Regions from separate parts of the Homo sapiens genome. Here all the other regions are reported to be linked to region 4. Evidence: microRNA targets listed by miRTarBase, many of them from high-throughput screens and not tested one by one. Region 4 holds a microRNA gene; each other region holds the end of a gene's coding sequence.
Evidence for each region. Region 4 holds the annotated microRNA hsa-miR-3678-3p (CUGCAGAGUUUGUACGGACCGG, at 2,215-2,236, shown strand). A microRNA usually pairs through its seed, bases 2 to 8, with sites in the 3' UTR of a target mRNA and lowers its output. Matches are read on the target gene's strand: a 7mer-m8 pairs with bases 2 to 8, a 7mer-A1 pairs with bases 2 to 7 and ends in A, and an 8mer does both.

Region 1: miRTarBase lists ARK2C as a target of hsa-miR-3678-3p. Seed matches in the 3' UTR shown: 7mer-A1 at 36-42.
Region 2: the mRNA of DSTYK is a reported target of hsa-miR-3678-3p. Seed matches in the 3' UTR shown: 7mer-m8 at 2,953-2,959 and 7mer-m8 at 3,043-3,049.
Region 3: the mRNA of IPO5 is a reported target of hsa-miR-3678-3p. Seed matches in the 3' UTR shown: 7mer-m8 at 3,110-3,116 and 7mer-A1 at 1,897-1,903.
Region 5: the mRNA of C5orf15 is a reported target of hsa-miR-3678-3p. Seed matches in the 3' UTR shown: 7mer-m8 at 1,206-1,212.
Region 6: miRTarBase lists SPSB1 as a target of hsa-miR-3678-3p. Seed matches in the 3' UTR shown: 7mer-m8 at 2,011-2,017.

What each region holds. Positions count from the first base shown.
Region 1 is chr18:46,456,067-46,460,152 of GRCh38, reverse strand. It overlaps ARK2C (arkadia (RNF111) C-terminal like ring finger ubiquitin ligase 2C), which reads right to left. Exons shown (of 8, transcript NM_152470.3): 7 at 4,073-4,086; 8 at 1-3,634. The coding sequence ends at 3,517. Among named protein-coding and RNA genes, the nearest start is that of ARK2C, 120 kb to the right of the region's middle. RefSeq lists an enhancer at 1,230-2,019.
Region 2 is chr1:205,144,102-205,148,206 of GRCh38, reverse strand. It overlaps DSTYK (dual serine/threonine and tyrosine protein kinase), which reads left to right. Exons shown (of 13, transcript NM_015375.3): 12 at 1-2; 13 at 462-4,105. The coding sequence ends at 649. Among named protein-coding and RNA genes, the nearest start is that of RBBP5, 24 kb to the right of the region's middle.
Region 3 is chr13:98,021,208-98,025,312 of GRCh38, reverse strand. It overlaps IPO5 (importin 5), which reads right to left. Exons shown (of 29, transcript NM_002271.6): 29 at 1,017-3,577. The coding sequence ends at 3,491. Among named protein-coding and RNA genes, the nearest start is that of IPO5, 70 kb to the right of the region's middle.
Region 4 is chr17:75,403,923-75,407,922 of GRCh38, forward strand. It overlaps MIR3678 (microRNA 3678), which reads left to right and starts at 2,147; the gene lies at 2,147-2,240. GRB2 (growth factor receptor bound protein 2) reads right to left here and starts at 1,756. Exons shown (of 6, transcript NM_002086.5): 1 at 1,567-1,756. RefSeq lists a silencer at 1,814-1,993.
Region 5 is chr5:133,953,368-133,957,472 of GRCh38, reverse strand. It overlaps C5orf15 (chromosome 5 open reading frame 15), which reads left to right. Exons shown (of 3, transcript NM_020199.3): 3 at 483-1,963. The coding sequence ends at 614. It overlaps LOC105379182 (a long non-coding RNA gene), which reads left to right and starts at 3,861. Exons shown (of 5, transcript XR_948797.3): 1 at 3,861-4,105. RefSeq lists an enhancer at 1-12.
Region 6 is chr1:9,367,359-9,371,455 of GRCh38, forward strand. It overlaps SPSB1 (splA/ryanodine receptor domain and SOCS box containing 1), which reads left to right. Exons shown (of 3, transcript NM_025106.4): 3 at 90-2,174. The coding sequence ends at 217. Among named protein-coding and RNA genes, the nearest start is that of LINC02606, 60 kb to the right of the region's middle. RefSeq lists an enhancer at 3,710-4,097.

The sequences.
Region 1 (4,086 bases), not on the chromosome of region 4:
AGAGTTAAGAATACTTGCACGGAGGCTGGGAACATTTGCAGAAGAGGAGCTTGAGTCCTGCCACAGGTGGTGGCCAAGGGCAACTGGGTGCCGAAGGGGGTCCTGGCCAGGTGGAGGGGCAGCCCCTGCTCACCCTCTGCTTGCACCCAACCAAGCTTGTGGTGTTGGGTTGATTGATTGGCGTCCTCGGTGGACCCGCGGCGGCACAGCTGCTGCAGCTGCTAGGACGCCCAACTTAAACCCTGGGGCTGCTCTCACCCCAGAAGGCACTCATGCGTCTCAGTCAAGAAAGGGTCTGAGTCCCTTGAGTTGAGCAGGAGGAGGACTTACCAGTGGTCTCCCCTCCTGGAGGTGGTGGATGTGAGATGCTGAGGCCTGACCCTGCCTCTTCTCCACTCTTCCCAGACTCCCTGACCAGTGCCGGGAGCAGAAGCACAGACCCTGGCCCTCTCTTGTCCCCCAAACAGCTGCCCGGCTAAAGAAGTGGGAGCTGCAGGGTTCTGAGCACCCCATCACCTCCTGTCCCCATCTGTGGGGGAAGGAGGAGGGGCTTCAGGGTCTACCCCCAAAGTAAGCAGCTTCCCTCTCCCCTCTGGTGGTCCCCTCCCCAGTCCCTAATATTAGCCTGGGGCAGAGAATTGGGAGGGGGGAGGGGACGAGGGCCCACTGTCTCACCCAGCACGTGTGCCCCCAGCCCAGTCTGAAACAGAGTGTGTGCCCACAGAAAGTCCTTTTCAATAGCTGGGTGGGCGCACAGCTCTGCCGCCTTGAAGATGTGTTGATGTTAGGGAGTGTGAGTGTCAGAAGGAAATTAGCAAGCATCCAATCCAACCTCCTTAGGTTGTAACTGAGGAAACTAAGGCCCAGAGAGACAAAGGGAAGTTTCTAGTGTTGCCCACTTTGTCAGTGAAGAGCCCAGACTGGAACCTGGGACACCAGCTCTAGTTCTATCCTGGCCTCCCCACTGACTCCCTCCCACTTGCCAGCCTTTCAGGCCAGTCTCAGCAGAAAGAATGAAAGACTGAGACTAAGAGAGGAGTGAGCTTCCTAGACCACCCTAGCTACCTCCAGGCCAAAGCCATCTTCCGATGAATTCTTGGTTTTCACCCAGCCATTGGAGAGAATGGGGCAGAAGTCTCAACTTCCTGTGGCTATCAGTAACTAGCTTTCCCCCAAAATCCTGACTCAGATGTACTTTCCCCACTGGTGAGATCTCCAGCCTTTAGCCCTGGAGACATTTTCATACACTGGAGCTACTGAGTTGGACGCTGTGATACTCATTGCTGCTAACCCTGAATCAGGTTATTCACCATTTTTGCAGCATTGGATGTGTCTTGTCTCCTCAGCTAGATTGTGAGCTCCTCAAAGCTATTGTCTCTCCCAGCGCCTGCACCGGTAGGCACTCAATAAAGATTTTATAGAACACCAGGATATTAGTGCTGGGAGAAATCTCCTGCCAGGAGCCACTTCCCCCACTTTCTGCCTGCAGGTGGCCAGAGCAGCTATTCCCGCATGAACCAGTCGTGCTAGAAGCTCTTCCTCAAGCCAAAATCTGCCCGCCTGTTACTTTTACCCATTGGTCCTGGTTTTACCCTTGTAGCAGCAATACAGACTCAAATTTCCTTCACTGTATGGAATTTCTTCAAATATGTGACAAGTATCCTGTCCCCCTTACCCCGGTCTTATTGATACGAGGGCATTGAGACTGGGTTATGAATGGAGGTGAGGGGGAGGCTTACAGAGCAGTGCAAATGAGGGAACAGTGGGGGGTGGGGCACAAAGGAAGGTGGCAGAATTCCAGCTAATCTGGTGTCTTCCACATAGGGAGAAAGAAAGTTGGGTTTGGGTTGGAATTTGGTGGATTTTCCCATCTCCATTCTTCTGTCCTCTTATCTCTCTGCTCCCTTTGGGGTTCAGGAAAATTGTGAGGTGGTGCAGAAAGACATACTGTATCAGGTCTGTGTCTCCCAGCACCCCCATCCCGACACCCCACAAGGTTCTCAGAAGAGAGCATAGAACACGCTGGACAGAGAATATGAATCCTCACAACATCTAGGTGAGGTAGCAGGACCGGAAATGGGGCTGCACTGTTCTCTCTCCCCCCTCAAAGGAGAAGGAAACTGAGGCACAGAGAAAGAAAGGGACTTGCCCAAGGTTATCAAAGAGTCAGAGAAGCAGCCAGAGACCAGGAACACGGGCACTCCCAAACCAAGCTGAGGGGCCTCCCAAACCTAGCTGATGTGACCTCAGAGCCAGGGCCATCTCTGAGGGACTGTGTCAGGACTGGAGACATCCCGGGGGATGCTCAGCTTCCTCCCCAAGGTCTGCGGTATTGACCTCAGCCCTTAGTGCTGGCTGAGAGCACTGTGGCCAAGACCAAGCAGCCATCACCTATGCTGTCTTATCTGCATCATCTGGTTAATTTTTTGCATAGGGAGGCAGTGGCTACGTTGCCTCTTTGTGACAGGCAAGAGCACAGCCTAAAGGAAGGAGTTGGAGTGACCATGGGTCTCTCGGCTCCCAGGAACACATTGGGTACCAGTAGCTGAGGGCCGAGCCCTCCCTGGTTTAGTGTGGAACTGGGGGGATATAGCTGGGGCCATGAAGTTGAGCCCTGGGCCTGGGGAGCCCCGCCTAGATGAACTCTCCCTTCACCTGCTGGAGCTCTGCTGCCTTCCTCACCTCCGCTGAACCCTCAGAGGCCAGGATAAGACCCCATCAGCTCCTTTTCCAGCTCTCCCTCTCCTAGACCCCCTTCCACACTCCGTGCACTGTAAACATGAGAAAAACAAAAGCCAAGGTAAAAACAAAAACAAAAATAAAACGAGAACCCCCCCCTCCCGCCTCCCAAATTGGGTGAAAAACAAAATCCTTTTTCACCGTAAACAGAATTTGGCTTTTTTTTTCTTCCACCTTTGATTCCTTTTTCCTTTTCTCTCATAAAGACGGGAAGATTGGGGCTGTCGTTGGTTCGGTCAGGCACCAAAACAAGAAACTCAATGAGAAATATTTGGTGCGAATTCGGTAATAGCGACATGTCCACCACAAGATGACTAGAGCACCACACACAACATTTTTCTTAAGCTAACATGCTCCGGCTGCCATCCACAGAAATAGCTAGAGACCCCTACATGGTTCCTACGTGGTCGAGAGGTATATATACAATCCTTCAGAGGACAGGATTGAGGGGCCCGTCTGTCAGCTAGTGCCTTCAGGATCCCACCTGGGTTCTCCGCAGCCTGGGCCCCTCCTTCCCGCCCTTGCGCTGGGCACCGCCAGCTCCCTCTCTCCTGCTCAGCCAGGCGGATGGGGACAGTCGCCATTCTGGAGAGGTGGGTCCTCCCCAACCCCCTCCTCTCCCTCGACACCGATACCACCAACTCCTCTTTCCACAAAATGTGCTTGCAGGCTTTTCCTCTACGTCAAATGGCTCAGAAGGCAAAGTTTGGCTGCAAGGGCTATGGCCGTGGGGGGACCTGGTGAAGGAAATGGGGTGTCCACTGGCTAATTCCTCCCTCAGCTGTCGGCTCCCAGTTGTGTCTCAATGTCCACTCGGCAGATGGGGCATTTCTTGCTCATGGCGAGCCACTGGTCCACGCACAGTTGGTGAAAGAGATGCATACAGGGTAGGCGTCTGGAAGAGAGGAGGGAGAGTCAGAGGCCCGGCAAGAGCTGAGGGACACTGAGCGGAGCAGGGACACACACCTAGGACTCCTGGGGAACTGCCCGGCTATGGAGGGAGGCTGTGGCTGAGATGGGAAACCATGAAGCCTCCGCCAGGAAGCGCTTTCAGATCAGCCTGAAACAAAGCCACAACTTTGTCTTAGACGCATTCAGACCGAACACCACACTGTTCTCCTACACTTTTCATCCTCGCGTCCGTACCCGGGCATCACACATCTAGAACATTTCATACCCCACCTTCCCAGGGCAACCATGAAGCACATTATAGCACACTTGGCACATACGTGCACAAGCAAACAAGCACCCCAACTCCCAGACACACGGTGCAGTGATTGGTCACCAATACCTATAAGAGAGGGGAGAGGGAATCAAAATGGCGGTCTCCTACCTCACATCTTCTCC
Region 2 (4,105 bases), not on the chromosome of region 4:
GGGTAAGAGCCACAAGTACTACCTTGTCCTAACTCCCCTGGCTAGCGCAGACTGAGCCCAGGCAATGTCACCGGGTCTCCTGTCATCCCATCTGGCCACTCCATAGCAGGGCCGTAGATACGTTTAAACTGTCATGAATCCAGAAAAGATATTTAAGTCAACCTTTGCTTCAAGTCAACTCTCTATTGAACTATCTCGAAAAGTCTTTTTTAAAAAATGTCCGATTCTTCAACTTCATATGCTAATGTGTTCCAGTTTTTCTTTTCTTTTTCTTTCTTTCTTTTTTTTTTTAATTGCTCTTACTGTTAGGTTCTAACCTAGATGTTTGCAATCGAAGTCAAAACTCCTTGCATTCTTAGTATTCTGAGCCCCACTGGGAAGTCAGCCTTTGAGCTGGTCATGCCTCTTTGTTGTGCTGGGTCCCTCTCACTGTGATCTTGTTTCCATGCTCCTTTCTCTAGGGGCTCGCCCAGAACGTCTTCCTGTGTTTGATGAGGAGTGCTGGCAGTTGATGGAAGCCTGTTGGGATGGCGACCCCTTGAAGAGGCCTCTCTTGGGCATTGTCCAGCCCATGCTCCAGGGCATCATGAATCGGCTCTGCAAGTCCAATTCTGAGCAGCCAAACAGAGGACTAGATGATTCTACTTGAAAGCAAAGACCTTTCTCTTTCACTCTCTAGTTATTTCCTTCCCCCTCACCTTTTGGCCATGGGGAGAATTTGACATTTATTCACTATAGGACACACTCCCAAGGGAACTGGTGCTTGCTGGGAAACTTGGAACCTTCCCAGGCAGGGATGACTCCTGGACAGTGAAGAGTTGAATGACTGAGCATATTCAGCAGCTCACTGAAGCGCCAAGCTATCCCTTTAGCAAAAAAGTGTCTCAGATGTGTAAAAGCTGAGGAATGTGGTGTTCTGGCTTCACAAATGAAAAGGAGGCAGATGTTACCATTGTCTTTTCACTGTATATACTTCTAAGACAGCAAGCGGGACACTGCAGTGGCAATAGTGTTAAAAAATCTCATTCTCATGATTTTTGGCTCTAGCTAGGAATAGTTTAGTCAGGACTCAGAAAATTTGAGCTTAGTTCTGGGATTATGAAAACATGGGGACAAAAACAATAACTTGTGGATGTCTGGTTCCTGCTGTCTGCAGCCAGGTATCTCAGGTTGCAATGGTCAGAAGTCCCAGTGAGGGAGCTAGAAACAGAGCTATCTGTTCCTCATAGTGCCAGTGTGTTTACATTTATAGGACCACATATCCCTGGTTTCTGGGGGAGGGTTTCACTGTTACATCACCAAGAGGCCCTGAAAAGAGGAAAAAAAAAAAAAAAGAGGCCAGGCATGGTGGCTCACGCCTGTAATCTCAGCACTTTGGGAGGCTGAGGCGGGCGGATCACAAGGTCCAGAGTTCAAGAGCAGCCTGGCCAACATGGTGAAACCCCGTCTCTACTAAAGATACAAAAAATTAGCCGGGCGTGGTGGTGCATGCCTGTAATCCAAGATACTCAGGAGGCTGAGGCAGGAGAATCGCTTGAACCTGGGAGGCGGAGGTTGCAGTGAGCCGAGATCATGCCATTGCACTCCAGCCTGGGCGACAGAGTGAGACTCTGTCTCAAAAAAAAAAAAAAAATAGAATGTGTATGCATATATTTGTGTGTATATGTATATATGTGTGTGTGTCTATATCTCTATCTATATAGACATACACACAGGAGTTATTGGATTTAGAGTTACTGCTAACCCCAGAACAGAATCTGTTCTTTTACCTTTGAGTCTTTTCTTTTGTTTACCTCTTTTCATCTCAAAGTGGGAAAGCTCCAGATAACATGGTACTTAGGAGTGAGTGTCTAAGCAAAACCAACCCAATGCGAAGTATTTGGGTGAGAACTGAGAGGTGGGAGATGATTGGAGGCCATGGCCTATGTACAAACATACTGGAAGAAAACCAGCTTGTTTTTAAAACTTAACACAATCAGAAATTTTTCTTTTTGTGTTTGAATCTAACACACTGACGTTTGGAAAACTTGATCAATGAGCTTTTAACCACGATTTCTCCCGCAATTTGTTCCTTCTTTTTACCTTTTTAAAAATCTGTTAGAAGAAAAAAAGCAGCAGACGAAAGAGAAAAACCCTCCTCTGGTAGTTCTGTGTGTGCCCCTCACCCCTGTGTGCTAGTGTCTGGGAAGTTTCCCTGAAAGGTGGGAGGCGGGTGGGTGGTCTTTTGGAGGGTTCCTCATGAAGTGTGCTTGAGGAAAGAAATTCTGATTCTAGGCAGAGGAAGGGGAACAATTTAAATATTGGTGCATCTCAGATGCACTTGACTTCAAGCCTTCCTCAACCAAACTGGTCCATTAGATTCCGAAAAACAGGTAGACGAGGAAGTAGACAGTGGAAGTGAGTAGTCTCCCTCCATCTGCCTAATCCCCAATAACTGTGGTCTGGCCCCTGTGTTCAGCCCGAGAGTTTGTAAAACAGGTCCCCAGGTAGGTGTATAAGATGAGTTGCAAATTAGCCGGGCATGCTGGCACGCACCAGTAATCCCAGCTACTTGGGAGGCTGAGGCAGGAGAATCACTTGAACCCGGGAGGCAGAGGTCATGGTGAGCCGAGATCACGCCACTGCACTCCAGCCTGGGCAACAGAGCGAGACTCTATCTCAAAAAAAAACAAAAAAAAAAACAAAAAACAAAGATGAGTCGCACATCTGCTGCTGGGATTTTCTAGGGTTGTCTATGACAGAATGACCATCTTTTAAATATTAATGGAGTATAAATGGAGTCTATAATGGGTCTTTCATATAACTTTTAACTCTTTGGCTATCCTGGGCTCTGATCATGATATGTTTGAGCATAGTAGCTCCCTAAACTCTTGGAGCCTTTCAGAAATTCCATGTAGTGCTAATAACCTTTTTACTTGCAAATGATAAAGTAACTGACTCAGTGTCTTTGGGCTCTGCAGGCTTTAGCCTTGTTTTGGTAGGATGTTCAGTATATTCTCAGAATTTTTACCACCTATTTAGCTATACTTCAAGTACTCTATTCTCTGCACTAACTTACTGTCCTTCTGGGAACTATGATGGGGCTTCAAGGGAGTCAGGTGTCAAGAAAGGAGGGGTAAGTACTCTCTACTTGCTGGAAAATCATTGTAAGTCTGTTGTGTATGAAATTTTAGGAAAAGTCTTATATAGTTCCCTTTCCAGACTGTTTTCTTTTGACTCTAACTATAATCATAAGTCTGTGCTTCCATTATGAAGGTCACATTCCTAGCATTCTTGGGAAGTATTAGCTCATACTCTCATTCACATATGGGAGGTTAGATTTTTTTCCTCTACCCAGAGTCCCTTTTTAGTTTACCCCACGGCTTAGTTTGCTGTCAGATACCAGTTCTCTAGCAGATTCCCCAACAGTTTTTTCCCCAGTGGGGAGGGTGGAAGGGAGGGACTGATATAAGTAAGGAGATGAGTAGTTGTGTTACAGTTCATTTTCTTTAAAAAAAAGTATTTTGAGAAAAGGTGCAAAATATTCTTGAAAGTCTCTAGGCCAGCCAAAGTCCACATATGGATATTTGGGGATGTTATTTAAATACTCAGCAGGCTGAGTGCAGGTATACGTGTGTATAGAGTGTGTATACTTTGCTTTTGTTTTATAACATTGTCAGCTAATTTTGGCTTTGTTCTTTGGCATCCATTCTTATTATAAGTGATGGAATGCCATGAAATGTACTGTATTGTATATTACTTGGGAGGACACTAGGTTTTCAAAGAAGTCTGGCAGCACTTGGGTTATAGAGGGCTCAGCATGACCAAAGTCCTAAAGATTTTACCTCCCAGCTTTGGTTGTATGTGTTCCCAAGTGGTGAGGTGAGATTGTGGCTGGAGGAAGAAAAAGGATGGCATGAAAGAATGACCCTTATTGTGGTCTGTCCTTCTAATCAACATAATTAGGGCAGCTTACCCCAACATGAAAATGATGACCTGGCCATTTTTAATGGCCAGAGCTTGAAGTCTGGTCTCTCATTTTGTTTCAGAAATGAGTGAGAGGCCTTCCTGCAGAGCAGTCAGGAGAAATGGTGGAGCCTGGGGCCCTGGAATGGCTGACCCTGTG
Region 3 (4,105 bases), not on the chromosome of region 4:
ATCATGAAAGAACAGATTTCATAATTATACTCTGCTGCCTTAGTGGAATTTAGAAAAAATTTTTTGTAATGTTTTACAAAAAATTATATTGTACCACTTTTGGATTCATTGAGAAGTGAATAATATAGCTATAATTTATCTTTAAAATGTTTGTATTCATCCAAATATAATAAATACATAGAAATAATCAGCCCAAATGTTGTCTGGCATACACTGTAAGGGTTACAGCTGTGTGGGGAAAAAAGGGTTTAAGTCTAGGGCAGGATGTTGTTAGAATTAACCCCTGCTCCTCAGCACCACCATTCAGAAGTTCCAAGTGCTGGAAATAAATATTCATGCTTCCTCCCAAGTGTGATGTGCATACATTGTGGATCATTCACTTTCTTCTTCTAATAGTGGTACTCATACTTTTAGGGCCGAGAAAGAAAATCTGCTTAGGAATAGCAAACATGGCAGGTTTTGGCTGTTAATCTTTTGTGGCAAAGAAGGTTAAGAGAAGCAAAGTGATTTCGTTTTTTTTTTTTTATTTTTATTTGAGATGGAGTCTCACCCAGTTGCCCAGGCTGGAGTGCAATGGCACAATCTCGGCTCACTGCAACCTCTGCCTCCCAGGTTCAAGTGATTCTCCTGCCTCGGCCTCTGGAGTAGCTATGATTACAGGTGCCTGCCACCACACCTGGCTACTTTTTGTATTTTTAGTAGAGATGTGGTTTCACCATGTTGGCCAGGCTGGTCTCCAACTCCTGACCTCAGGTGATCCGCCTGCCTTGGCCTCCCAAAGTGCTGGGATTACAGGCGTGAGCCACCGCGCCCGACCTGCAAAGTGATTTCTGTGCAGCAGAGAAAACTGACCCAACAATCCTCCTAGGCAGAATGAAGCAGTTATTAAAACATTTAGCTAGCTCCTTAGCCTTTCACGTTGCTTAAACAGGCACTCACTCAAAAGATTAGATCATAAAAATATAATGCTTGCAAGACTGTAAGTAAGCACCCCCCTTATTTATTATCAGACCAGGTGCACCAAGACCATTTATTTGCTTATGTCTTTACTGATGGTTCTGTCAAACTACAACTCCAGAGTTATAAGGTTGCCTCTCATTACAGAAGTGTCAATTAGATTTAAGACAATTTTACTTTTCTTTAAAGATACAGCATTTAAAAAATACTCCAAATTGAGTTATGCCAAAGTTTCTAACACTTGTGCGTGTAACTTGTTACAAAATTCCCAGAAAACGTAAGAGCCACACACATTTTTCCCCTCCAGAAATAGCTTGCATTTATAAACAATATATATCACTTGCTGACATGCAAGACCCCTAAATTTGGTACAAAAGCCAAGAAAAAACTCCATGGATTTTCATCTTGCATAGACAGAATGAGGTATTAAAAATGCTTCTGCAGGTCCTTTCAAAGAATTGTTAGTTCATGGTACATCTCACAGTTAGTTCTGAGCTCTGGGTTTCAGAATCATGTCACACTAACAGCATTTACTACCAACCTTCCCTATTAACTTGATTCAACTCCAATTACCTCTTTGCTTTTCTGCTTTTATCAAGGAGGATGCTGCCAGTCTGCATCTAACAGAGCGCTTCTTTCAGAGCTCTTAGAACCCTGCTGTAAGTACATCTCAGATACTAACGGCATCTGACAATACCACTAGTGTTTAAACTGGAAGGTAGGAGGTTCTTGCTCCCAAAGTGCTTAGCATAGTGCCCAGCAAACACTAGGTTCTCCCAAAAAACATCTTCTGACCACACTGTCATCTGAAATTCTGCAGGTGTGCCATGATTTTAACATGTTTCTTTTCTGCAAGTGTAGTAATAAAGTGTAGTAATAATTTAAATTAAAAAAAGCCTACATTGCTCTAGCTGATTGGCATCAGTACATGAATCGGCTTTGCAGATGCTACATAAGAAAGCAGAAAGGGGTTGTCTTGACACACTTTTTACTCCAATTCCCATTTTTTTCTCCCAAGGAATACAGGCTATAAAGCTCCAAATATTACCACACATTACAAGAGCCCACAGGTATTCATCCACTGAACACAAGGACTGCGCAGGTGGAGTCATTTAATATGCTGCTTTGCTAGATTCGGAAGCCTCCGGGCAATGGTGTTGTGCTGCAAACGTAAAATATATTTGAAGGGCATCTGCTAACAAGGAAACCATCTGTATGTAATCCATTCTATTTTCTATTCCATTTCAGATTTAGTTTTAATAAAGTAATACAAATCATTTAAAGAAAAAACCTTTAATTTAAAATTCTGATCTATGCATAAAATTCATTTTTATATCACGGTTAAATTTAGTACAAACTATAAAAATGTTAACACTGAAGTTTTCAACAGAAGTCTATTAAGATGCCTTAGAAAAATTAAACAACAGCAAGTCATTTACTGCTATGAGGTTAATACATAAAGAAACATTCACACATTTTACTGAAATTTTCAGTAAATAACTTTAGCCATAACACTTATAATTAAAAGTTCAAAAGTTGTGTGTGGCTCTACAGCAATTATAATTTGCAATGAAAACACTAAGCCAAATCTTTTTGAGCTGATCAGAACAATCTTAGCTACAAAATTGGCTGAAATTTGCAAACCTTAAAAAGAACACCAATTGTGAATGGAATAGGTATCATAACTTAGCTTAAAGTGGAAGATGGTAAAAACTCGATGCTTAAGTCTGAATTGCACAAGGAAAATATTAGGGGAAAAAACACTCAGCTATTACTGATAGCTATTACTTTAAAAAAATATTAGATCATTCTTATATTAAAAACATGAAATGAATCCAAGCCAGACAGTACTGAGTTTTTACACAAGCCTCTTTTGTATTCAATGTTGTTTATTGAGGAGTGAATGAGAGACTACTGCCAGACATGCCAATGACACTTCACATTCAAGGGCTGGAAGCTGGAAAGCTTCCCGACTGAGTCACTGTATAAGCCTTCTGGGAAAAAGAACCAAAGTGACATCAAATATGCCATCTTCATGCTTGTTGTCTGTCATCAGTTTTTTTCAACTTTTGGGTCTACTGGTTTGCTGGGTAGGAGGCTTCTTTCTACCCTACAGAAAGACTCACACTCCCAATTCACAATGAACACTGAATGCAGAGCAATTTGTGTGAACACACATCTACGCTGAGTAACTGTTCTTAAAGCTGTTTTTCCTTAAATTTCCTTATGTCTAACGAGAAAAATTAATTTGATTTCCCTTTCCCCTTCAGGTGGGCGGGTTATACCAATAGAAAAATAGTCTTCAGTGCTAGCTACCGCAGGGCTTCCAGGAACTCCTTCAGTGGTCTGGTAGAAATCCATGGAAACTCCATTCTGCAACACAGCGCTGCTCTTCCTGCTTGTGGCTCTCCAGAAGAATGGCCTACACACAACACTACCGATCTCTTTTGCTCAAAAACAAAACAAAGAAACCTAAAGGAAAGGGTAAGCGTTTATTTGGAGTTAGTTTTCTGGTGGGTGACATTAAGGCCCTTCACGCAGAGTTCAGGAGCTCCTGAATGGCGGCCTGCTGCTCAGGACTGAGCTGTGCTATGCACTCAGTCCACAGTCCTCCAGAAGTCTAGGGAAAGAAACATTTTCACAGACTTAGGACGAAATGCTCATTTGGAAGGATTTTAATCATCATCATAGGTAAACTGTAATCATGGCAAAATACCTTCTCCCTAGGTACATTATTTTGATGAGTATCATTGTAAAAGCAAGAAATCTGTTCATTTTTTTAAAGTTCATTTCATTTCCAGTAAGTTTTCTTCATTTTTGCACTGAAAAAGCTACACTAAGCAGGTAACATCTTAAAGTAACCCATATACCACATGAATATAGGAAGTAAAAATCATATAAAGTTTTTTGGCAGATGACAAGTTATTATTAAATCTTGTTTTTTTTTCTTAAGATAGGCAGAAAAACTACACATAAGCTTGTGTTAAGCACCAACTGGTAAGCTCAAAATGTCCTAAGATGAAGGTTTTAATTCTAATAAATAATAAGTACATACGGATGGATTACATTAAGTATAATCCATTTGAGGCTTGGAGACAAGAGACTATGAAAATATAAAAATAAAATTCCTTAGCTCATTAGATTTCTA
Region 4 (4,000 bases):
GGGCAACACAGTGAAACCCCATCTCTACTAAAAATACAAAATTCGCTGGACATGGTGGTGGGCGCCTGTGATCCCAGCTACTCGGGAGGCTGAGGCAGGAGAATCGCTTGAACCCAGGAGGCAGAGTTGCAGTGAGCCCATATAGCACCATTGCACTCCAGCCTGGGCAAAAAGAGCAAAACTCTGCCTAAAAAAAAAAAGTCACTGAGCTGACCCAATCTTCCTATTATAAAGACATACTAGAAGAAAACATAAGCAGGCACAGAAGCATAATCTTAAAAGAAAAAGAGTAAAAGACAAAAATAATACAAGCAAACCACACTTGCGACCTAGTGGCAGGACTGATTTCTTAGGGATGAATTCAATCTTTTGAGCCTCCCCGTTCTCAGAGAGGGGACTTCAGCCTCCCACGGCTCTCTAGCAACCCTTCTGGCTGACTGCAGGGAACGCAGGGGACGCGCAAAAGTAAAGGAACGAAAGCAAGGAAAGAGAGTCTCTTCCCGAGGAAAAAGACGGAATCTTGAAATGAGAGAAAACGAACAGCACGAAAGGGAAGAAACCTCGAAAAATTACGCCAGAGTGGGGACTACAAGGAGGAAGGGGAAGTACATTAGAAAAAAAGGGGGGGGTGGGGGGAGGAAGGGGCAAATGACTTGCATTACACAAGCATTTCGTGTCCCTAGTGGAAAGGACAGAAGCAGATAGAGAAGGAAGGAAATAACTGGAGAAAGAGGAGTAAGAAAGCCAAAATAGACTAATGCTAATTTCTCTCATGTGTCTGACATTTCGGAAAGTCAACAGCATCAAAAAGAGACAGACCTCAAGTGCACTTCAGTCCCCTGCAAACTGCACTTTCACAGCGTTTGAAGCCAGCCTTGAAAAACTTTCTAAACAAGCCATAACTCATGTGTGGCTTACAATCATAGAGAGGGCGCGCTGCAAATGAAAATTACCAGCGCCCGCTCTCGCCGCAATCCTTCCTCGGTGCAGTCCAACCTGCTACTGCTGAATTTTTCTTGACAAATATTTTTCAAATAGTTTTTTTTTTTAAGTGTCAGAATAAAGGTATCTCCCCCGGCTCCAGCAGCAAACGTTCCACCCCAAAGTGGATTCCCGCACAAAATTAAGCCCAAAGACGCCAGGAGATGGTGACGTGGTTGCCGTGCAGGTCGAAGGCACATCAATCACCACAGCTGCAGCCCACACCAGTCCCCCGCCGCCAGGCTCGGGTAGACTGACTCGGTCGGCGTTCGGCCCGCCTGGGCTTCCCGGGCCCCTTCCGTGCAAACCCTCCCGATGAAGGCAGGGGACCTCGCCAGAGAACCCCGACCTCTTCCCCCGGACTGCCCAGAGCCAAGAGCCGGAGGAGGACGGTCCCCAGGAAGGAAGCGCCCCAAAAGGGGAAACGTAGAGTCCGGAGCCCCGGGGATTGCGCTCCACGTCCCAAGCCTCGCCGCCCCGACGCGAACCCCGGGGCCGGTCCCGGTTCCCCCGGGGCCCACTCCCGCTGTAGAGCCAAGAGGAAAAGGCACGAGAGAGGCGCCGAGCGCAGCCTCCCGTACTCACCGTGGCGCAGCTGCTCCGCTCAGCGTCCGGCCCGCCCCTCCACAACGCTGCGAGCGGCCGGCGACCCCAAGGCTGCTCTGCGAGGGCAGCGCTTGCTCCCGCCGCCGTCACCGCCACAGGCACAGACTCTGCCACAGCCGCCGCCGCCGCTGCCGCCGCCCGGTCGCCGAAGCAGCAATACCTCCTGGCTTCCGCTCCCCGTCGGTGTCCCGCGAGAACTTCTCCACGAGGCCCCGCCCCGCCCCCGCGAGACTTCCCCCGGCGGAAAAGGCCCAGAGCGCAAGCGCTCCTCCTCAGCCGGGCCCCTGCGGGTAGGGAACCAGCTAGGTGTCAGGGCGCATGCGCCAGACCTCCCCGCAGCAGGTGGCCTCCGCACGGCTCCGCCCCCGGGTCGCCGTAACCCTCTCGGTGCCAGAGCGGGTAAATGACAGCTTAGCCCTGAAGGACTCTTCCCCCGTCTAATCACTTTATTTTCCTCTTCTACCAAACCTAGGCAGTTGGATGGGTAGGGGCTTGGGGGAGGAAGAGATCTTCCAGAATGAAGCACTCCAAATAGAGGACCAGGTCTTAAAATATTTGAGAATCCGGTCCGTACAAACTCTGCTGTGTTGAATGATTGGTGAGTTTGTTTGCTCATTGATTGAATCACTGCAGAGTTTGTACGGACCGGATTCTCCAATATAGGCCGAACACTGTGCTGGGGATAGAACAGAAATCTTGGCCCTTAAGGAATTCACGGTCTAGGAAGTAGAAGAAAAATAAACAAATAATGCCATAAGTACTGTTATAATTATTTGGAGTTTGCTGAGGAAGCTAAAAAAATGGAGGGGGTACTGCTACACTGCCCATTGCAGAAGAGCCTTCACAGATGTGATGCGGCGATGTCTGATCTGAGTCTTGGAGGATGAGTAGGAATTTGCCAGGCAGAGAAGCCAGAGTAAGGGCATTTCAGGGAAAGGGAATGGCACGTAAGTACAGAGGCTAAGTACAGAGGAACGGAGGCGTGAGAGAGAAAGTCGTGTTCTGTGCAGTGCTAAGTAGTTCAATTCCTGTATGAGGCCGGTGAGTACGGGGGAGTGGCAGAAGATGAGGCTTGGAGAAATAATTCTTATTTTTCAGTTCCCAAAGCTCTTCCAATTAAAGGATAGAACACAACACACCTAGCGTTACTGTGCCTTCTGGAAGCCAACAAAATAGCGCTGAGGTGAGAATAACCAAGCATCTGATTCTATAGAGAAAAGAAGCCCATTGAAACACAGAAAATGAATTGTGCTTTCACCAAGTATTTATTGAGCATCACCTGTGTGCAAGGGGCTCTGCAGGGTCAAAGACCAACCAGATGAAGCCCCTGCTTTCAGTGCTTTGTAATCTAGAGTTGCCTAATCTGTAAGACAAGCAGTTGGCCCCAAGTGCCACTGAACTACACATAGGGATGGCTGAGGAGGGAGCCAGTACTTGGTGCTGAGCTAATCAAGAAGGATTTGGTTTGAACGGCAAAGTGAAAGCAGGGAGGAAAGAGGAAAGAGTAATGGAATCAGCCTTTTGTTTTTTTTTTTTTTTTTTTTTTTTGAGACGGAGTTTTGCTCTTGTTGCCCAGGCTGGAGTGCAATGGTGCGCGATCTTGGCTCACCGCAAGCTCCGCCTCCCGGGTTCAAGGGATTCTCCTGCCTCAGCCTCCCGAGTAGCTGGGATTACAGGCATGTGCCACCACACCCAGCTAATTTTGTATTTCTAGTAGAGATGGGGTTTCTCCATGTTGGTCAGGCTGGTCTCAAACTCCTGACCTCAGGTGATCCGCCCACCTTGGCCTCCCAAAGTGCTGGGATTACAGGCGTGAGCCACCATGCCTGTTTTTTTGGTTTTTTTTTTTTTTTTGAGACTTGCACTGTTGCCCAGGCTGGAGTGGAGTGCAGTGGCATGATTTTGGCTCACTGCAACTTCCGCCTCCTGGGTTCAAGCATTCTCTCACCTCAGCCTCTCAAGTAGCTGAGATTACAGCAGCCTGCCACCACACCCAGCTAATTTTTGTATTTTTAATAGAGACAGGGTTTCGCCATGTTGGCCAGGCTGGTCTCGAACTCCTGACCTCAGGTGATCCACCTGCCTCAGCCTCTCAAAGTGCTGGGATTACAGATGTGAGCCAACACTCCTGGCCATCAACCAATGTTTTTGATTAGTCCAAGCCCCAGTAATTGGGGGGAAGAGTGATGAGAGAGAGGGGCCAAAATGCAAAATGCATGGCTTAGGTGTCATAGTCAAGTGATGGGCAACCTCTGAAGGTTTCTGAGCAGGAGGTGTCTGATATGAGGTGAAAATAAGAAAAGGACCCTCTATTTACCACTTGATGCATACTTAAGTCATAGCGCCTCCACAGGGTGGGTAATATCCCCATTTTACAGACTTGGAAACTAAGCCTTAGAGAGGTTAGTAATTT
Region 5 (4,105 bases), not on the chromosome of region 4:
GGAATCTGAGTCTTTAACAAACATTCCTATATATATTGAAATTTGAGAAGCACTGTTTAGCCTTCTTTACAAGATGGAAAGCAAAATAGCTTTTGTTTTTTTTTTTTTTTGAGACAGGGTCTTGCTTTGTCACCCAGGCTGAAGTGTTGTGGTGCTGTCATGGCTTACTGTGATCTCTGCCTCCTGGGCTCGAGTGATCCTCCACCTTAGCCTCCTGAGTAGCTGGGACTACAGGCAAGCGCCTCCATGCCTGGCTAATTTTGTATTTTTTGTAGAGATGGTGTTTCACCATGTTGCTTAGGCTGGTCTCGGACTCCTGGGCTCAAGTGATCTGCCTGCCTCGGCCTAAAATAGCTTTTTTGTTGTTGATATTTTGTGTTTTATATTTAGAAACCTAGAAGAGAGATATTTTACTTGTTATAAAAATGTTTACCATATTCTCTGTTTTCTCTTTTGCCTATTTAATGACTTCTGTTTTCCAGATTTTTCTTCTGGTTCAAAGCAGGAAATGGCGTGATGGCCTTTGTTCCAAAACAGTGGAATACCATCGCCTAGATCAGAATGTTAATGAGGCAATGCCTTCTTTGAAGATTACCAATGATTATATTTTTTAAAGCACTGTGATTTGAATTTGCTTATGTAATTTTATTTGCTTGACTTTTTATATGATATTGTGCAAATGTTTGCCATAGGCAATTGGTACTTAAATGAGAGGTGAGTCTCTCTTTTGCCTTGGTGCTTTGGAAATTAAATGTCACAAACGAGTATATAATTTTTTATCTGTACTTTTAGAGCTGAGTTTAATCAGGTGTCCAAAATGTGAGTTAAACATTACCTTATATTTACACTGTTAGTTTTTATTGTTTTAGATTTATTATGCTTCTTCTGGAAGTATTAGTGATGCTACTTTTAAAAGATCCCAAACTTGTAACTAAATTCTGACATATCTGTTACTGCTGACTCACATTCATTCTCCGCCATTCAAATACTATTTTTTATCCACATTTTTTTTTGTTCCCAAACTGTAATGTACAAGGATATGTGTGATAATGCTTTGGATTTGAGTAATATTTTTTTTTCTTCCAAGAAAACTGCTTTGGATATTTTTAGATAATTTAAACATAATTTAGGATAATGATATTGCTCAATCTGACCACAATTTTAGGTAAAACATTAAATGTGTCAAGAAATCTTGGCAACAGAGACTCTGCAGCTTGCAGTGGACATAGATAAAATGTTACAGAGATACTATTTTTTTGGTTGGAATTACTATATTAAATTTAGAAGCAGAAACTGGTAAAATGTTAAATACATGTACAATTGCTTTTAGTTAGCAATTGATTGTAGCATGGGTTCCTCCAAGGTTTCAAGCAATGGGCAGAGTTTAAAATTATATCAGATTCGTTTACTTCGTTTATTATTTTACAGTAAATTTGAATAAATCTTAGGGGTCATTATCACTTAAATAATACTGTACCTAGGTCTTTCAAATTAAAATTATACCTGAATGAAGTTGTTTGTATACATAAAGGATATTTGTGTACAATTACCTTTTTTCCCCCACACTTGTTTTCTTTGTTTTTGTTTTTTATGGCAACTGGAAAGTATTTACTATGGGATTCATTTATGTCTGTCTTTCTATCATAAAGAATTGATCAATATGTAAATATGTGATTTGAACCATGGTTGACTTACAAGTGTCACTACAGCTTTTTAGAAAACATAGCCCTAATATATGTTAAGCAGGACCCGGGTGAGCCAGTGGGCTTGCGCTTTATGTAGAGCTGGAAGAAGGCCGTCCATCCTGTCTCTTGGGCGGACAGTGTACTTTCCTAATAGGGAAGGGAAGCACAATGGAAATACCCCTGAACCGTTTTATTGCAGTAATTTTTTTCATATCTGAAACTATTATTTAATATTTTGAATAAGATTTTAAAAAATAAATGGCAAAGATATAAATCTATGATTTCACGAGTGTGTTTCTGTGTTTCATTTCAGTGATGACATTTAGGTGGTGACGGGGAGTAGTGTATGTCTGGGAGCAATCTAACCTGATTCACTTGCAGGTGTCCCTCTCAGCAGTGCAACTCTGCCTCTATGAATTCCACTTACATTGCTAAATTCTTCTTTAGGTCCAACTTACTGCGAGGTACTGAAGTTTATTGAAAACTGTAGCAAAGTAGGATGGCAAAGAAAAGCAAAGTGGCTAAATCAGTGTGCTCTTTCTAGCATCCTGGGGTCACTATCTGGGATGGAAGGCTCCCCGAGTGTGGAGGCTCATCCCCCTTAGTGGATTGGGGGATTCTTGGGTACTTCCTGGTGGTCCAGCCACCTAGGTCACAGTGCTGCAATTAAGTAGCCTCAGACTTTTGGAGCATCAGATCATACATTGATTAAAAATGCCCCTGGAGTCTCACAGAGGCACTTGAGCACTAGGAACTAGTGCTAGGGACTAGGCACGCAGGGGCCACAGTTGAGCCTCACAACCTCATGCCACCTCCTCCTGTGTGGTGTTATCTGCTCCTTTCTCCTAGACTAGACTCACTTTCTGGTCAGACCTGAAGCTCTGCACCCGATTTTGGTACTAATGGTATAATAGATTACCTTTTAGCTCCCGTTTCTGTGTCTTAGCTGAAAAGGAATGTGTTGGAACTTGTGGGGCAGACAGAAACAGACATTTAGAATTTGGGCAGTCAGGCAGGCATGTTATATTAGTCTGTTCTCACATTGCTATAGAAATACCCGAGACTGGATAATTTATAAAGAAAAGAAGTTTAATTGGCTCACTGTTTTGCAGGCTGTGGAGGGAGCATGATGCTGGCATCTGCTCAGCTTCTGGGGAGGTTTCAGGAAGCTTACCATCATTGTGAAAGACGAAAGGGGAGCAGTTGTCTCACATGACAGGAACAGGAGCAAGAGAGAGTAAGGGGGAATGTACTACACAGTTTCTTTTTTTTTTTTTTTTTTTTTTTTTTTTGAGACAGTCTCGCTCTTTCACCAAGGCTGTAGTGCAGTGGTGCAGTCTTGGCTCATTGCAGCCTCCACCTCCTGAGTTCAAGTGATTCTCCTGACTCATCCTCCTGAGTAGCTGGGACTACAGGCACCTGCCACCACTCCCAGCTAATTTTTGTATTTTGTATTTTATTTTATTTTTTAGTAGAGGTGGGGTTTTACCATGTTGGCCAGGCTGGTCTTGAACTCATGACCTCAAATGATCCACCCGCCTCGGCCTCCCAAAGTGTTGGGATTACAGGCATGAGCCACTGTGCCTGGCCTTACTATACACTTTTAAATCACCAGATCTCATGAGAACTCATTATCATGAGAACAGCACCAAGGGAGATGGTGTTAAACCATGAGAAAACCACCCCCATGATCCAGTCATCTCCCACCAGGCCCCACCTCCAACACTGGGGACTTCAATTCGACGTGAAGTTTGGGCAGGACACAGGTCTAAACCATACCACATACCTTGACTGGGCTTTCTTGATTTTAAATGTGATCTCCTGAGCGTGAGTGCAAGCTCTTGCGGAATGTGTGGTTTGCCCCACCGAGTGAGTTGCTTGAGAACAGGAACTGGCTCTTACTGCTCTCCAGCCCCAAGCTCATTACCTGGCACCTGCTAGGCCCCTTTAAATTGTTATTCAATGAAGTATTTGAGAAATTAGATGAGGAGAAAACCAAGACAACTCAGGCTCTGCACAAGATCACATAGTCTGCATAGAGTCCAATACTACTAACGTCCTGGGTACACAGATGAATGCGGGATCAGAGCCGAGTACAGCGTGTCAGTCCTTATGTGCACATCCACAATTCTACGGGAAGCTAAAGCCCACAATAGTTGTATGAGATATCACCCCTTCCTCCAAATCCCAGGTTCTCATCAGAGCAGGTGCTGCCTGTTGAAGGTGAAGGAGATCACTGCCGGCACTGCTGCCGATGTTCCAGTTCTCCCCCATCCTGTGTGTGGGGTGGGGTGAGCAGGGCTGGCTTTGCCCTTTGGCCTTCTTTCAGCCTGGTTTGCTGGTGCAGCAGTTTGCCTCCCTTCTGGGTTCAGTGTGAAGCAGTTCATCCTTCCCAGCTGAAGTTCAAAAGGTTAAAAGTC
Region 6 (4,097 bases), not on the chromosome of region 4:
AATCAGTGATAATATTGCTGCTGTGGTTAGCGCTGTTTGCTGAACACCCACCCAAGCTGCGCTGACCTGCAGTTTCTCTGTCTCCCCAGCCGAGCCGCTGCCGCTCATGGATTTGTGCCGTCGCTCGGTGCGCCTGGCCCTGGGGAGGGAGCGCCTGGGGGAGATCCACACGCTGCCGCTGCCGGCTTCCCTCAAGGCCTACCTCCTCTACCAGTGACGTTCGCCATCATACCGCCAGCGCGACAGCCACCTGGTGCCAACTCACTGAGCCGCCTGCCGCTGGGGCCGCCGCACCCTGCACCTTGGACCGGCATCCGTAGCCATGGACAGAGGTCCCTGGTCTTCCCTCATCCTCCGTGGCTGCCTCCATGGGACAAGGACCGATTCCAACACAGGCTCCTCTTTCCCCCTTCCCGACATCAGCAGAAGGCAGCATCCCTGCATGCCGTCCGTATACAACCCCTCTTTGAAAAAAGACACAGAGAATAAACTCCTACGAAAGCCCTACATTGAGCTCCAATCTGCTCGGGGTGGGACGGGTGCTTCCCACACCTCTGGGAGAAGGCTGCAGCCACCTGGGGGTCCCAGGGTGGTGGGGGTGGCAGGTGGTACCACAGCTCTGAGAGCAGATACCAGGGGTACTAAGAGGTGCTTAGACAAGGGCTGGTGCCCGGCCCAGGGTGCCCAGCGGGGCCATGCCATGGCAGATAAAGCTCAGGACGTCAAAAACTCACCATGGACCCCAAGGCAGAAACCAAGAACTGTCTGCAGGCAAATAAGCACCCAGCACCCATCCTGGCTGCCGGTGCCCCGTACCCTGTATTTATTCTTTTAACAATAACAAAAGCCATTTATTTATTCCATCTAGAAAGGAAACCCTGTTTCAGTCCCCTCTCTCTGGCTGTTCTGTTACTTTCCTTCCACCTGTGCCCTCCCTGGGATATGTATGCCTCGCCCGCCCTCCCTGGGCACATGTGCACACGTGCCCAGGCACAAGTATGTCTCTGGGTCCCTTGCCCTGCAGTTTCCAGGGGGCTCTGCTCCAAGTTCCCTAGCGGGCCCCTCAGGGAGAAATAGCCTCACGTGCAATCTGGGTGTCTTCGGGGGCCCGTCTGGAAGGGCTGCAGCAATTCCCCTGTGTCTCCAGGTAACCAGCTAACTCTTGGGCTCAGGCACCCTTGCACAGGGTTGCATTTCTTTAGTCTTCTGTGGGTCTTTTGATGTGGGTTTGATTTTGCTTTTGCTTTTCTAGCTGAGATTTCCCAAGTGCATCCTCAGAAGCTCTGGGTGTGCCAGAGGACCCCCAGAACTAAGAAGGGAGGGCGAGTGGGTCTCCATTCCCCGAGAAGCCGGGGGCAGGGTGGGATGGGGAAGACCAGGAGCAGAGTCGAGCCTCACAGAAGCCAGCGCGGGTCTCTGCTCAGCACCCCAGCCGGGGCTCTGGACCCAGGGTAACAGCCCCAGTTCATCCCAACCCCTCTCAGAGCCTCAAGAGGGGTAGCTCGGCTGCCGGAAGAGAGGGGTGCCCTATCCCTGGCAACCCCTCCACGTAGCGTACCCCAGCACCTGCCACCGCCTTTGCCATTTCTTTGAGCTTGAAGTTAACTCTCTTAGAGTCTAACTTTGGTTCATTTCTGCACAGGTACAATAGATGACTTTATTTGTTTAAAATGTTTAATATATATACATACATATATATATATTTGTCTGTAAGAATTATGTTTTAAACAGCTGCTGTAGAGTACCTTTTTTTAAGTAAATCTTACAGTGGAGTATATTTTTTAAAGCACAAAATTGGTGCCAAGACTGGGTGAGAAATGTACATTACCCCCTTATTATTTTGACGGTTTTTTTTTTCGGGGCAGGGGACCTTACCTGTAAGACTTTTAAAGATTTTCCTCCCTCCTGTTTCAGGTGGGTCACATTCTGATGAATGTTTCCCTTGTACAGATCCCAGCTTATGGCCTTGACCCAGCCGTCCTCACAGATGCCGGGTGACCCTCTAGCTCTCTCTGCATCTCCCACCCCCCGACACCCTGGGACCCTCGACCCCACCCTTCTTTCCTACCAGCCCAGAGCCTTGTGGCTTGTACAGTTTTGAAACTCCCGTTCTATTTTATGATGGTTGATAATAGTCAGTAACCTAATAAAGGAACGTTTGTTAAAATATCAAACCATTTTTGAATTCCTCGTTTGTGCCTCGGGGGAGGGGAAAGAGACATAGCTGACCCCTCCTGGGTCCAGCCAGCTCCACGGCCCACAGTTTTCAGCAGATGATGGGCTGACTCCCTACCACCCCTTGGCAGAGGGTGGGATGCCAGGCAAAGCCCCAGACAGAGAAGGAGAAGGAGAGTCCTGGAGGGAGGACCCCAGAACAGCCTCATCCCCATTTCAGAAGTTCCTCAGCCTGGCAGCCCAAGCTGCAGAAACTTGCCAAGTCTAACAGACAGTGATTCTGTGCCTTCGTGAGCGCATCAGGTTGGTTTGTGGGGTTGTAGAACTTGAGTTGACCGTGGGCTTTTTAGGAGCAGAGTGTGAGCCATTGTGGGCGTCCTCAGAGTCCAGGCTCTAGGGGAAGGAGCAGGTCCTTCATTCGTCTTTGTGTCCCCTGGGGCTGAGTGCACGGTGATGTTTGCTGAACTGTTGCAGAGTGAACTTGTTCTGCTAGCCATGTGGGCAGAGCCCCCGACAGAAAGGACAGGAAACTCTGGCTTATTTAGGGGATCAATGGGTGATAAAATGACAGTCAAGAAATTTACTAAGATGTGATCACGTGTCACGGCTAGTTTCCAAAGAATTAGCAAGAGCACATTAAGCTTGCGGTGGGGACGCTTCATTCTGAAGGCGTGTTGGGACCTGATAGTGCCGTGAAAAGTGCCTGGCCTGAGGGCCCAAGATCCCTGGGCCCAAAGACCCATGTTCCTTTCTCTAAGAGCCTCCTGACCAGCTATCCTCAGACCACACACATCAGCAGCATCTGGGAGGGGGGTTGTGAAAATGCAGATTCCAGGGCCCCACCTGAGATGTACCAAGTCAACACTTCTAGGGCCAGGCCCAGGAATATGCATTTCCTCAACTCCCTAGGTGACCTTGCCTAAGAGAGTTTGCACACCACTATTTGTGACAGTGTCAGCTGTTTTGCAAAGTTGCTGGGTAGAGGGAAATTATTCCATGGTGTCGGTGGGTTGGCCCAATGAGGAGCGCATGCGCTCCTGAGTCAGACCTGGATTCAAATACTGGCTTTGTGGCCTTGGACGAGCCTCCGGAAAACAGCAGTCACTGTAGTGTAGTACCTATCTCACAGGAGGATAGCAAGGGTAAGATGAGGCTTTCCGAACAGGACCTGGAGTCTTAGCGAGTGTGCAAACAAATGCTTTAAAAGCTCCTGCATTTCTGGAAAATGGCAGTTTCTGGGTTGCGACTTTGTCTCTAAGAATGGACCAGATGCTCGGGCGCGGTGGCTCACGCCTGTAATCCCAGCACTTTGGGAGGCCGAGGCGGGCGGATCACAAGGTCAAGAGATCGAGACCATCCTGGCCAACATGGTGAAACCCCATCTCTACTAAAAATACAAAAATTAGCTGGGCATGGTGGTGCGTGCCTGTAGTCCCAGCTGCTCAGGAGGCTAAGGCAGGAGAATGGCATGAACCTGAGAGGCGGAGGCTGCAGTGAGCCGAGATCGCACCACTGCACTCCAGCCTGGGCTACAGAGCGAGACTCTGTCCCCTCCAAAAAAAGAATGGACCAGACATTCCTAAACCAACTTCCTGATAATGATCTTCCTTCCCAGGTAAAGTCTCCAAAGGTCAAGGTGGGTATTGGGAAGAGGGTCCCCTAGATGCCTTTCCCAGATGCGGTTGGATGAAAGGGGTGGTGTAAAATGATTTTCAGGTTGGAGTTCATGTCTGGGTTGCAGTTGGAACTCCGCTTCCTTTGAAGGGGGCAGCAGGGGAGGAGTGGGGTTGGGGTCAGGCGCTGGGGGCGGGGGGAGGCACAGGGAAAAATCAGGGCCCTTGTGCTGCCAGGAGACTTCTCGGGGAGTAGGGTTTTGTGCCGAAGGGAGTGGGATTAATAAAACCATCTGTGCAGACTTGGCC